2 linked regions of the Homo sapiens genome follow. The protein of the gene in region 2 interacts with the protein of the main gene of each other region in a pairwise test. Each region holds a gene or a part of one and is shown on either strand. Other genes may lie near its edges.

Region 1 (7,037 bases), on a different chromosome or scaffold from region 2:
AAGATTTGTTCTGGTACTTTCTTCTAGAAGATTTAGTTTTGGCTTTTCTTTTTAAGTATATAGCTCTAGTACAAATTGAAATAGAATATATCAGTAAGAGCAGACATCCTTGCCTTGTTCTCAATCTTAGAGGATAAGCATTTAGTTTTTCACTGGTATCCTCTTCCCTGTAGAAATTTTGTAAATGCCCTCTATCAGTTTGAGAAAGATTCCTTCTTTCTTTGCTAAGAATTTTTTTATTATGATTATGTGCTAAATATTCTCAAATGCTTTTGCTACATTAGTTGGTTTAGATATGTGTCCTCTCCAAATGTCATGTTGAAATGTGATCTCCAGTGCTGGAGGTGGGCCTGAAGATAGGTGTTTGGGTCGTGGGAGCGGATTCCTCATGAAGAGCTCTTTCCATGAGTAATATGTTCCCCTTAAAGAGCCTGGCAGCTCCTCCCTCCAGCTCTTGCTCCCCCTTTGCCTTCTGCCATGATTGTAAGCTTCTTGAAGCCTCATGAGAAGCAGATACTGGTGCCATGCTTCTTGTACAGCTTGCAGAACCATGAGACAATTAAACCTCTTTGTAAATTACCCAGCCACAGGTTTTTCTTTATGGCAACACAAAGTGGACTAACACGCTACTTCTATTGATATCATCATATAGCTTTCCTCCTTATACTGCTAAAATGGAAATTTACATTGATTAATTTTCAAATGCAAACCAACCTTGCATTCCTGGGATAAACCCTACTTGCTCGTTAGGTGTCATTCTTTTTCTGTGTTACTAGATGTGCTTTATAAATATTTGAATACACATGTTTGTGTCTAGGTTTATAAGGGATATCAGTGTGCAATTTTCTTATGAAGTTTTTATTTTAATTTTTGTATTACAGCAATACTGGCCAGATAAGGTAAATTGAGAAATCTTCTATCATCCACTAATTTCTTCAATATTTTGTATAGGATTTACTTTACCCCTTCCATAAGGGCTTGATAGATTACATTAGTGATTCCACCTGGGTCTAGAGATAGGCGGGAGCATTAACTACAAATTCAATTTCTTTAATTAACATTGGGAAATCTAAATTTTCTATTTATGCTTGAGCCTATTTTGGTAATTTGTATTTGTCATGGAATTTGTCCATTTCAACTAAATTTTAAAATATAGTGGCAGAAATTTGTTTATAATAGTCTCTTTTTACCCCTTAGTGTCTACAGTATACATACACATAACTCTTACACTTCCAATATTGGTATTTTGTATTTTCTCTCTTGTTATAATGCTTTTATCTACTAAAAAAGAAAATCCACAGTGTATGAAAGGTGGTGTTGGATTATGCCAAATAATAAAATGAAAATTAGGACTATTTTGTAGTTATTTCAATGTGGAATCTTTTACTTGAATTCCAGTATTGAACCACCTCAGAACCAAAGTATTGCATGTTTTTAAGTAAAACTGAATATGCTTTACACAGTTTAGTGAGAGACCATTTTAAACACCGTTCAGATTTCTTGGTAACCCTACAGAAAATAAATTGAGTATATATATATTTTTTCCCTCAAATGTTATTTTAAGTTCAGGGATACGTGTGCAGAATATGCAGGTTTATTTCACAGGTAAACATGTGCCATGGTGGTTTGTTGCACCTATCAACCTATAACCTAGATATTAAGCCCATTATCCATTAGCTATTCTTCCTGATGTTCTCCCTCCCTGCTTGCCCCCGCCCCCAACAGGCCCAGTGTGTGTTGTTCTCCTCCATGTGTCCATGTGTTCTCATCATTCAGCTCCTACTTGTAAGTGAAACATACAGTGTTTGATTTTCTGTTCTTGTGTTACTTTGCAGAGGATAATGGCTTCCAACTATCCATGTCCCTGAAAAGGACATAATCTCATCCCTTTTTAATAGCTGCATAGTATTCCATGGCATATATGTACCACATTTTCTTTATCCAGTCTATCATTGGGCATTTAGGCTGATTATGTATCTTTGCTATTGTGAATAGTGCTGCGATGAACATACACATGCATGTATCTTTATAATATTAATATAATGGTTTTTATTCCTTTGGGCATATAGCCAGTAATGAGATTGCTGGGTCAAATAGTATTTCTGCCTCTAGGTCTTTGAGGAATCACCACACTGTCTTCCACAACGGTTGAACTGATTTACACTCCCAGAGTGTAAAAATGTTCCTTTTTGTCCACAACCTCACCAACATCTGTGGTTTCTTGACTTTTTAGTAATCACCCTTCTGACTGGGGTGAAACAATATCTCACTGTGGTTTTGATTTGTATTTCTCTAATAATCAGTGATGTTAAGCTTCTTTCCATGTGTTTGTTGGCTGCACGTCTGTCTTCTTTTGAGAAGTGTCTGTTCATATTTTTCCCACTTTTTAATGGGGTTGTTTGTTTCCTGTAAATTTGCTTAAGTTCTTCTTAGACTCACTCTGGTTATTAGACCTTTGTCCCATGGATAGATTGCAAAAACTTTCTCCCATTCTATAGGCTGTCTGTTCACTCTGATGATAGTTTCTTTTGCTGTGCAGAGGCTCTTTAGTTTAATTAGATTCCATTTGTCAATTTTTGCTTTTGTTGCAGTTGCTTTTGGAGTTTTCATCATGAAATATTTGCCTGTGCCTATGTCCTCAATGGTATTGCCTAGATTTTCTTCTAGGTTTTTTATAGTTTTGGGTTTTACATTTAAGTCTTTAATTCATCTTGAGTTAATTTTTGTATATGGCATAAGGAAGGTATACAGTTTCAGTTTTCTGCATATAACTAGACACTTCTCCCAGCACCATTTATTAAATAGAGAATCTTTTCCCCATTGCTTATTTTTGTCAGGTTTGTCAAAGATCAGATGGTTGTAGCTATGTGGTCTTATTTCTGAGTTTTCTATTCTGTTCCATTGGTCTGTGTGTCTGTTCTTGTACCAGTACCATGCTGTTTTGATTACTGTAGCCTTGTATTATAGTTTGCAGTTGGGTAGTGTGATGCGTCCAGCTTTGTTCTTTTTGCTTAGGATTGACTTGGCTATTCAGGCTCTTTTTTTGGTTCCATATGAATTTTAAAATAGTTTTTTTTCTAATTCTGTGAAGAACATTAATGGGAGTTTAATGGGGATAGCATTGAATCTATAAATTACTTTGAACAATATGGCCATTTTCATGATATTGATTCTTCCTATCCATGAACATGGAATGTTCTTCCATGTGTTTGTGTCATCTCTGATTTCTTTGAGCAGTGGTTTGTAGCTCTCCTTGAAGAGGTCCTTCAATTCCCTTGTTAGCTGTATCCCTAGGTATTTTATTCCTTTTGTAGCAATTGTGAATTGGAAGTCATTCATGATTTGGCTCTTGGCTTGCCTGTTTGTTGTTGTATAGGAAGAGCATATATATATTTTTAATTCCACTTTACATTTGTAAAATAAAATGCAAAATATTTTTATGTCTGTTTTCATAGCACATTTAGTATGCATGTATTTCTCTTTAAGTGTTTGACTTTCAATATTTAAAATAATATTGCTTGTTATTTGAAGAAAGTTCTAAGACTACTTAATTAATTTACATAAGCTGTTTGGCAATAGTATAACCAGGGACTTCTGCTAAAAGAGACTGTTGCAATGATAAAATAAAATAAAGTGCATATTTTCTTTAAGGAGTAATGTTTCAGTAATTCCACAAGAAAACTAAAGACCCCCAATTAAATGTTTTTAAGTTTAACTTTTACATATTTTCATAATGAGATCAAAAGAGGAGTTGGAGTTTAGGGTCAGAAAAAGAAAATCATTCTATGTTCAAATGTCTACAATGTGCATATGCTATGTCATGCAGGGGTGAGATCAAATCAACAATTTTCAAGTTCATCATCTCATGTAATGCATACATATACATGTGAATCAGACTTGTTATGCTGTTATTATTAAATGACATGGAAAAGAAAATATTAAAAGACTTTCTGCAATTATCTCATTTCTCTTGCAAATTTGGTAACATATAATAAATATATGTACTTTTTCCTCCACAGGACCTGATTGGGGATATGAGGGAGCAGCTTTCGGATCACTTCAAAGATGTGATGGCTGGCCTCATGTACCCACCACCACTGTATGATGCTCATGAGCTCTGGCATGCCATGAAGGTAGTGATCTGATCCAAAAATATGCCTGTAACAAGTACAGGCCAGTATTTCAGTAGAGGGGAAACTGCCCTGTGATGCTCCTACATACTTATATGATCAAGGAGAGGGGAGGGAATATCTAAACAATGATGTAACAATGGAAATGTTGTGGTCAAGGGCAGTGGCCTTGTTAGGAAGGTGGAGCCTCCTGGGCTGAGTGGCTGGGATCAGCCTGTTCTTTTGTTGTACAAAGTCACAAACTTACTGAGCCAGCCCCAGTGCTGACCTACAACAAGGAAAAGTGAACAAGCCTCCAGGGCTATTCAGATTTGTCCCTGAGCATGTATTCCTATATTGAGGATAATGTATTAAAAATGATGTGAATCTTGTTACATTATTTGTAAAAATTTGATTAAGTCAAAAGAAGATATTGAATCAGGGACAATATATAGATGATGTCTTTATATTTTCTTTTTATGACCTGAAGTTCATTCTTTACAGAAACATTTTTTTTTTTGCTCAAATGTATAAAAATCTTAATTTGGAAGAATTAGAATCAGTGTTTCTTACAGGAAAGTCATTTCCATGAAATAAGTTGACTGTGGATTTGTTACAGATTTTGTTGGCTAGGTACAGGGAACAAAGAGGGCCTTGGCTTTACTTCTTTCCAAATGCAGATATTAAACACCTGCAGAACTGTTGAAATCATTCCAGTACGATGCTTGCCAATGACCAGATTACCACAATCTGTGAACAATGTGTGACAGAAAAGAGGCAACAGGAAAAAAATTAAAGGACATGGATTTTGGCCATCACATTTACTGATCCAAATAGGCATTGTACAAAAATTATATGAATTTTAACTAATCGCTTTTAACACATGTTACATGTCAATTCCTACCTCTTGCAAAATTATGTCTAAAAATTATTTAAAAAATAAAGTTATATGTTTATATGTTGCTGTTTTGATTAAACAAGTGTGTTTTATCAATAATTCATAGAATGCTAAGGATTTCTGAGGCTTTCCTAAAAAAGGTGTATTGTCTTTAAGATCTCTTTCACAGACCAATATATCCATGTGTCTGCAAGAGACCACAGAAAGCATCCATCCAAATATTTATGCAAATTGTACAAAATTCCACATCTAGAGAGGCAGGCACAGGTCCCTAAAATATTCTCGGCAAATTAGAAAACCTGTATTCTAATGTCAGCTTGCTAAAGAATTAATATTCCAGCAGCAAATGGAATATCAAATATCATTCCAACAGCAAATGGAAATGCTCAATGCCATGAGCATTGCTTGAACATGTCTTTCTCCACATTGTTTAGAAATGCTCATACTGTTTTATTCTAAATGAAGAAACAGTTTCCTTCAGATAATATTAATTCTTCAGGGTCAAATAGGTAGTAAATGGCAAAGCTGAAACTAAGATTGTGCCTGCCTTCATCCTAAACCACTTCCTTTCCCTGCCACCTCTCAAAACACTGGAAATGCTGTATCCCTTTCTTGTACAAAAGGTACACTATTACTTCCAATAAAAATATCCTTACATTTATCTCTTTTTTCCTTTCTCTAGGGAGTAGGCACTGATGAGAATTGCCTCATTGAAATACTAGCTTCAAGAACAAATGGAGAAATTTTCCAGATGCGAGAAGCCTACTGCTTGCGTAAGGAAATATACATATGTGAATATATTTTACACATATAAGAACTTTATAACACATTAAATATTCCAGTTTATGTATTTTGAAGAATTATCTAAGACATTCTTACATTTAACATAGGATTCACTGAGGACCAATTAACTCATTAGGTAAAACCGATTATTAGTGCACTAAAAATGAAACCATTCTCTAGACAATCAAGTTAAGCAAATTTTCCAGGAAAATAATTACAAGTCTCTATGAGGTGAATGTTTTCATTAAGACAGGAAAGTGTCCCACATTTTAATTCAGGGGGCATTTCACCTCTTACCCAGGAAAGACCCAGCATATAGAAAAAATAAGGTACAATAATGGCTCAGTGAATTCTACAAATATATCTGCTTCGCTTTACATAAATTTCACATTCCCGTAATCTACTACAAAATCAGATTTTTATACATTTCAAAAGTAGAAAGGGTAACTATTTTCACTTTCAAAAAGGTATAATGCCTTAAGTTCTATTGCGTTATGTAGTATATGACATTGTGTGTCAAGAAAATGTTGCGGACAGTCATCTCTATTGCATTCAAACAAAAACAAGACTTTTCTGAAGGGAATGAAGTCAGAACTTTCACTAAAATGTTAAAATGAGATGAAGCACTTAGAAAAAGTATTGGGCTGGGCAGCATTCTGTGGAAATAGAATGCATAATTCTGAATTTTGAGAATCAGAGAATGTGAAATGACTCTCAATCCTGTTTTTCAATTTTGGACTAAAGATTTTTAAAAAATAGTCCTGTGCTTATGTTACCATTAGGTGACAGAATTCTTTGGCAGACGGTTTATTGACAAAGAAATGTCAACAGGTGGACTACATTTCCTGGACTTTGTACTCACAACTGGGAAATAACATTAACTTACTCAAAACACACTGATACATAGTTCTATAATAAATCATACCTTTAACATGTTTTCTTATACAGAATACAGCAATAACCTCCAAGAGGACATTTATTCAGAGACCTCAGGACACTTCAGAGATACTCTCATGAACTTGGTCCAGGTATGGCATTCCAAAATTTACATTACTTTGCACTATCTAAGCAAATAAGTATATGTCATTGCCAAAAAAAAAAAAAAAAATAGAACAGAAAACTCCAGTATATTACAGTTCAATAGTAAATTCTGTGTAGTAACATTTACTGAAGCCATGTTCAAAATACTCAACTAGAAATTTAAGTTGTTAAAGACAAATATGGATAATGCCTCAACTCTATTTTCA
Region 2 (7,037 bases):
GTTGACTGATGTGTAGTAGCCAAATAAGGTGTCAGAGACAGGGTGTGGCTGGCTACTCTGTTGTGGATGTGCATTAGTGTGGCCTCTACAGGATCAGTTCAGTATGGACCCTGTCATTATTTGGTGTTTCAGAAACTGCTTACCCACAAGAGATAAAATTCTGAGAAAAGAGATCACGTTAACCGAAAGGTCTAAAGAAAGGTTTGTAAGTCAGAATAGCAATTTGTAGTGGTAGGTGTATACCTGGCTCAGAATGTAGAATTTTTTGAGCAAACCAGGGATTCCCTGCTGCTGGGATCTAGCCTAAGACCAAATTAAAAATCAGAAGATTGCTTGCTGGGTAAGCATAGATTTAAGGACTAGCTGAATAGTATTTTCCTACAAGCTTCAGGCTATAAGACCAGGCCTTCTTTTACTCTGGGGGTATTTCTCTCTTAAACAACTGCCAGACACTCAGACTCAAACTGAAGCAGGATATTTCCCTTCCCTGACCTATTCACAGGACTCATGACAGGGGTGCCCCGTTTACTCCACGCACTGCTCTCAACTCCTTGCAGAAGGGAGTGTGCGAGAGAACAAGGCAGGAACTGGAGTGCACAAGCACTGGAACCTGGCTGTCTGTTTCAGTGCCAGTGGGATCAAACTCCACTCACTCAGACCCACTGTGTTCTACCCATTGTGGGAGGGAGTGCACATGTGAGCCGGTGCAGGAGCCAGAATGAGCGCTTCTGGGCACCAGCAGGAGCGAACTCTGTGCAGGCCATATGGCAGCATCTAGGTGGGGTGTCTACAACTCCTGAAGCCCCAGAGGATGTGTTATGGTGCTCTTTTAGCTCTGCCATCCACAGATGGCTTAAGTGTTAACAGCTCAGTGGGCCTGCAGCTGCCCTCTGCCAGTGAGGGCAAAGGATCAGTGTGACAGTCTTTTGTATCTGCACTCATGGCTTCTGAGCTTTTGTCCAGTGTCCAGGAAAAATGAGGTCACATGAATGAATTAAAGGATGGTAAATGTGGGTGATTTTATTTTTATTTATGTGGGAAGGGGAGCTGAAAAGGGGACAGTCAGTGGTGGGTAGGTAATTTTCCCCTTAAGTCTGGCTGTCTCCAGCCAAATTCTTCTCCATAGTTACACAGTCAAGCTATCCCTCTGAAGTCAAGCCACTTCTCTCTGACATCCAGCCATAGTCTCCAACATCCAGCTGTTTCTCATCTCTGCTGACTGAGTCTGGGGTCTTTATAGGCACAGGATAGGGTGGGGGCAGAGCCATGGGTGGTTTAAGAAAAGACAACATTCTAGTGGGAAAACAGGGATATAAGTTCTCACTTTGGGCCACAGTCTCAGCCTTTTCAGCTTCAAAGGTGGGGCTTCGCCAGGGACCCGCCTCTAGAATTTCTCTGCCTCCTGCCTCTGTCATTATGTCAAAACCACCATGCTATATTCTTACTCTTCCTCTTGTTTGCTAATAGTAAGTTGTCAGAAAAACTTTTGTCATTACCAGTTTCCTTATGAAGGGGATAACTGGTTAAGATTTCCAGGAGTACTGCTTATTTCATATTCATTAACAAGTTACTTGGGTAATATTTGTTGTTGTTTGTGTGTGTGTGTGTGTGTGTGTGTGTGTGTGTGTTTTGAGACAGATTCTTGCTCTTTGCCCAGGCTGGGGTGCAGTGTCGTGATCATCACTCACTGCAGCCTTGAACTCCTAGGCACAAGCGATCCTCCTGCCTCAGCCTCCCAATGTGGGATTATAGGCGTGAGCCACTGTGCCCAGATTGGGTGATGTTTGAAACCTATTATTGCACATGAGATTTGTTGTTTGTGCTACTTAATATGAGTTTGCAATAGTTACCTTTACCATTTTCACATTGGTTCCTGTAACACTCTCCACAAAAGACTAATGTATTTTCCACGTTCACTGAGCGCTTTCTGTGGATACACTGACTTTAGTCCCTATTTTTTCTCCAGGGTCATCTAGTAGCAGGCACCCAAATCAGGCAACTCCCAAGAAAAGTGGTTTAAAGAATGGCCAGATGAAGAATAAAGATGACGAGTGCTTCGGGGATGATATTGAGGAGATCCCAGACACAGATTTTGATTTTGAAGGGAACCTGGCTCTTTTTGACAAGGCAGCTGTGTTTGAGGAGATTGATACCTATGAAAGGAGAAGTGGTACCCGTTCCCGGGGCATCCCAAATGAAAGGCCCACTCGGTACCGCCATGATGAGAACATCTTGGAGTCCGAGCCCATTGTCTATCGACGGATCATAGTGCCCCACAACGTGAGCAAGGAGTTCTGCACGGGTGAGTTGCATCAGGTCCCACATCCTGCTGGTTGCTGTTGCCTTTCTATTATGCTTGAAACAGAAAGACCTGGCTTCTGAGTCAGAATCTCACACTAGGAATTAATTTAAGTGGCTTGGTGGCTGGCCCGGTATTATTGTCTCTTGGGGATTGCAGCCAATAACAGCATTCTGCCATGGTGGAGGGGTAATTTCTGTAGATGTCTGTGTATATCCTGTATCTGGTAGGATATGGCCTGCCACTTATTTAGTATGCTGTGAGTAACAACTAAAGGCAAAGGGCCTGCTATGTAGATTCAAATATTCAGATCTATTTTCACTTTGGCTTCTCTATTACTGCCCATACATTTCACCAGACTTCAACTCTGTTTTACTAATTATTTGTTGTTGCAAAAAAACAGTTGAAGATGGATGATTGGAATCATTGGCTAAAAATAGAGTTTTAATAAATTACATTTCTTTACTATGCTGTTCTTATCTCCTGTTAGCCCAGGACATTGAAAGTTGGCTAATTTCATGTAACAGTGTAGTGCCTTATGTAGGTCATTGTAGATGATAATCTAGTTCTATTACCTCAGTGATTATTGTTTCTTTTTTTAGCATTAGAACCTTTTCTTCAAACCTATGGCATATAAAACAGATTAAAGCAGTGTGAGAGAGGTAATTCATCACATCCGTGTCCCATCCCTTCCCCTCAAACCACATTACTAACTGGGCCTCTTGGAATATGGTTTGAAAACCATTGTTATTGAATGATCCTAAGAGCTAAAGGGGAAGTCATAATCATTTTAGTAAGTAGAGAAGGAATTGAGTATAATATTTTTATTTTGGTTTGAAGTTTGGAATATAAGGAATATAAATCTTGAATGCTGGTAGCTGCTATAAGGAGAACTGTGGACGCAGCTAATTGCATTTGGAGGAAAGCCAGACATGGCTTTTTTTTTATAGATAATAGTAGGACTCTGTTGTATTTGGTTTCGCTGAGTATAGTAGCTTGCATGTGCTTTCCATGTGAAAAAAAAAAATAGGCCAACTGTCAGGCTAAGAAAGACTGCTAAAAAAAAAACAAGCTGCTGAACTGTGTCAGTCTTTTGCTGGCAGATTCTGGTAGGCATGCCTGTTTATTAAGGTGGTTTCCTTAAGTGGCAGTGACAGTGACACTGTAACTTGCCGAAGTCCTTCGATTTTTAACACCTGTGTAAAGGCAAACAGCCTAGCTCAGAATCGGGTTTAATTTAAATTGCTAGGTTTTAAGCCTTTCAAAGGCAGTTATCATCTGTTAAGTCTGGTACTCCTCCAGATCAGCCAACTATCTACCTCTGACTGCTTCCTTTTTTACTGCCCTCTTTGTAAAAGAAGCTGCTCCTGCTGCTAGCTCTCTATATCTGTAGTCCAAGTGCTGCTGCTGAGGCTGTTGGTTTATGCAGCGTGTGATTTCCCTGGAACTATTTACACTGCAGGATTTTTTTTTTTTTTTTTTGAGACGAAGTCTCACTCTGTTGCCCAAGCTGGAGTGCAATGGCGCAATCTCTGCTCACTGCCAACCTCCACCTCCTGGGTTCAAGCGATTCTCCTGCCTCAGCCTCCTGAGTAGCTGGGACTACAGGTACACACCACCATGCCTGGCTAATTTTTTTGTATTTTTAGTAGAGATGGGGTTTCACTATGTTGGCCAGGCTGGTCTTGAACTCCTGACCTCGTGATCCACCTGCTTTGGCCTCCCAAAGCGCTGGGATTACAGGTGTGAGCCACCGCGCCCAGCCCTACACTGCAGGATTTTTTTAACTTGGGAAGATTATGATCTGCCCTGGAGTCAAGTGGCTAAGAGTGAGAATAACAGTGAGAATCAGGGAGAATTCTCAGAACTAACAGAGCATGAGAAAATATTTACTAACATGGACAAAAGCAGAGGTAGAAATTTTTTTCTGCTACACACTCTGGCTCCCCAACTTGATCTTCACACTTCTTTTGTTTTTAATGACTGAAGTGAAAAGTTCTGTCATATAAAATTATTTTCCTATCAATAAACATACCACAAACCACATGTGCTGGTCCTTAGCCAGAAACTTGGGTGTGGCGTCTTGTGGTATGTAGTGACCAGTTGCACTCCACTGGTTCATGACAATGAGGGGGAAAGAAGCCCAGCAGCTTCATGCCATCTGGTTTTTCTCTTTGTTCTTAACAGTGACAAGGAGTGGAAAGGAAGCCCTTTTGCCAAGCAGCGTCTGTGCTGGAAATAGAGCAAGCAGGCAGTTATCTTACTGAGCAACTTCTTCTACAGGGGGGTTTTCTCTGTGTTCGAGTTCCAAGGCACAATCCTCAAGCAGGTTTTCACTGAGGGGCAGTCAGTGCAGAGCTGGGGACACTTTCTCCATTGGATCTGCTATCCAAATGTTTGGATCAAAAAAGGCAAACTAGAATATATAGGGAAACAGTCTAAAAGCATAAAATGTTAGTGTTAGGTTAGTTGATCACCTAGTATGATTTTTTCATTTTACAGATGAGGACATGAGGCCCAGAGAGGTAAAGGTTTTTTTTTTTTTTTTGGAGACAGAGTCTTGTTTTGTCATCCAGGCTGCAGTGCAGTGGCGTGATCTCAGCTCTCAGCGCACCGCAACCTCTACCTCCCAGGTTCAAGCGATTCTCCTGCCTCAGCCTCCTGAGTAGCTGGGATTACAGGCACCTGCCACCATGCCTGGCTAATTTTTGTATGTTTAGTAGAGACGAGGTTTCACCGTGTTGGCCAGGCTGGTCTCAAACTCCTGGCCTCAAGTGATCTGCCTGCCTTGGCCTCCCAAAGTGCTGGGATTACAGGCGTCAGCCACCACGCCCAGCTGGTAAAGGGTTTTCCATTGGCCAGGTGCAGTGACTCATGCCTGTAATCCCAGCACTTCGGGAGGCCAAGGTGGGAGGATTGCTTGAACTCAGGAGTTCAAGACCAGCCTGGGCAACAAAGTGAGACCCTGTCTCTACAAACAATAGAAAACATTAGCTGGGCACGGTGGCATGTGCCTGTAGTCCCAGCTACTCAGGAGGCTGAAGTAGGAGCGTCTGAGCCCATGAGGTTGCGGCTGCAATGAGCCAAAGTCATGCCACTGTACTCCAGCCTGGGTGACAGAGTCAGACCCTGTCTCAAAAAAAAAACACAAAAACCTTACCCATCACATCTCCTTTTCTCTTCTAAATGTGAATAAAAATGAGGAAAAGGCCAGGCGCAGTGGCTCATGCCTGTAATCCCAGCACTTTGGGGGGCTGAGGCGTGTGGATCACGAGGTCAGGAGATGGAGACCATCCTGGCTAACACGGTGAAACCCCGTCTCTACTAAAAATACAAAAAAATGAGCCGGGCATGGTGGTGGGCGCCTGTAGTCCCAGCTACTTGGGAGGCTGAGGCGGGAGAATGGCGTGAACCTGGGAGGCGGAGCTTGCAGTGAGCGGAGATCGCAGCACTGCACTCCAGCCTGGGTGACAGAGCGAGACTCTGTCTCAAAAAAAAAAAAAAGGAAAAATATAAGAAGAGAAGGGCAGTTTAATGGCAAATAGACTACAGATGATCCTCCAACTTACAATGGTTAGACTTATCATTTTTTGATTCTAGGATGATGTGAAAGCAATAGTCAGTAGAAACTGTAGTTGAAATTATTAATTTAGATCTTTTCCTGAGCTAGCGATATGCAGGTATGATATTCTCTAATGCTGGGCAGCAGCAGGAGTCAAAGCAGTCAGCCGTGCAGTCATGAGAGTAAACAACCAGTATTCTACAGTGTACTGTTTTGCCAGATGATTTTGCCCAACTGTAGGCTAGTGTAAGTGTTCTGAGCAGGTTTAAGGTAGGCTAGGCTGAACTATGATGTTTGTTTGGTAGGTTAGGTGTATTAAATGCATTTTCAACTTAGATATTTTCAATTTATGATGGGTTTATTGGGATAACACTCATTGTAAGTTGAGGGACATCTCTGTAGTCTTTTCTTTAGTACTGCAGTCTCTCAGGAATGGACCAGCAGTTTACAGAAGTAACTTGGAGAGCTCCCGCAGTCTGGCCTTGTGGCATTCATGTCCTAGAATACCAAGTACTTTTGTACTAATCCCCATGGTAGCAAAAGAACAACATATTTATTACCCATTTGGTGATGGCTTGGGATTTAGGATTCTGACAGCTTGCTGCTGGTGCCCTATATATTGACTTCATGCTAAGTGGTGTCAACCAACAGTACATAAGCTATTATTCACTAATTGCTCATACTCCTCTTGGCAGTACTCTTTGCCAGCTGTGTGTGTTGTGATGGGGAACAGTGTTGTTTTAGGTCTATTGATTGGGAAAACACATTCAGGAAGCAACTAAATTTAGCTCTTTGTTTAACCCCAATTTTTTCTCTCTGGAAATTCCTTTCAGGTTCTTTGGCAGGGCTTCTGTCTCCCGCAGTCACGGATCATCAGACATTTCTCTAGCTTGGGCCTGCCCTGCTAAATAATGGTGTCCAGTGATCACACTCTGGATTGGCCAGGGTCTTTCTGGATCCAGACTTGTAATTTGAAATTCTTTGAAGACTGATTCTACGTGCATGTGTTAAGTTTAAATATAAAACACTAGATGTGTGTGAGCACTCTGTGTTCAGTGGTGAGAACTCCCCAAAGAATACTGCTTAGTAAAGTGGTAAGGCTTCAGAGAAGAATCTTTATTCAACACTCATAAGATTCTTTTTTTAATTTTTTTTTAAATTTTATTATTATTTTTT

The links. Proteins that work in one complex are often made in the same cells at the same time.
Region 1: the proteins of EDC3 (region 2) and ANXA10 interact in binary tests that used the Homo sapiens proteins (3 or more experiments, as listed by UniProt).

Annotation. Positions count from the first base shown.
Region 1 is NC_000004.12:168,158,509-168,165,545, forward strand, and holds part of ANXA10 (annexin A10), read left to right. Parts: intron 1-1,725; coding exon of another isoform or gene 1,726-1,785; intron 1,786-4,019; coding exon 4,020-4,133; intron 4,134-5,689; coding exon 5,690-5,780; intron 5,781-6,738; coding exon 6,739-6,818; intron 6,819-7,037.
Region 2 is NC_000015.10:74,650,998-74,658,034, reverse strand, and holds part of EDC3 (enhancer of mRNA-decapping protein 3), read left to right. Parts: intron 1-1,966; coding exon 1,967-2,302; intron 2,303-7,037. UniProt on the Homo sapiens protein: Binds single-stranded RNA. Involved in the process of mRNA degradation and in the positive regulation of mRNA decapping. May play a role in spermiogenesis and oogenesis.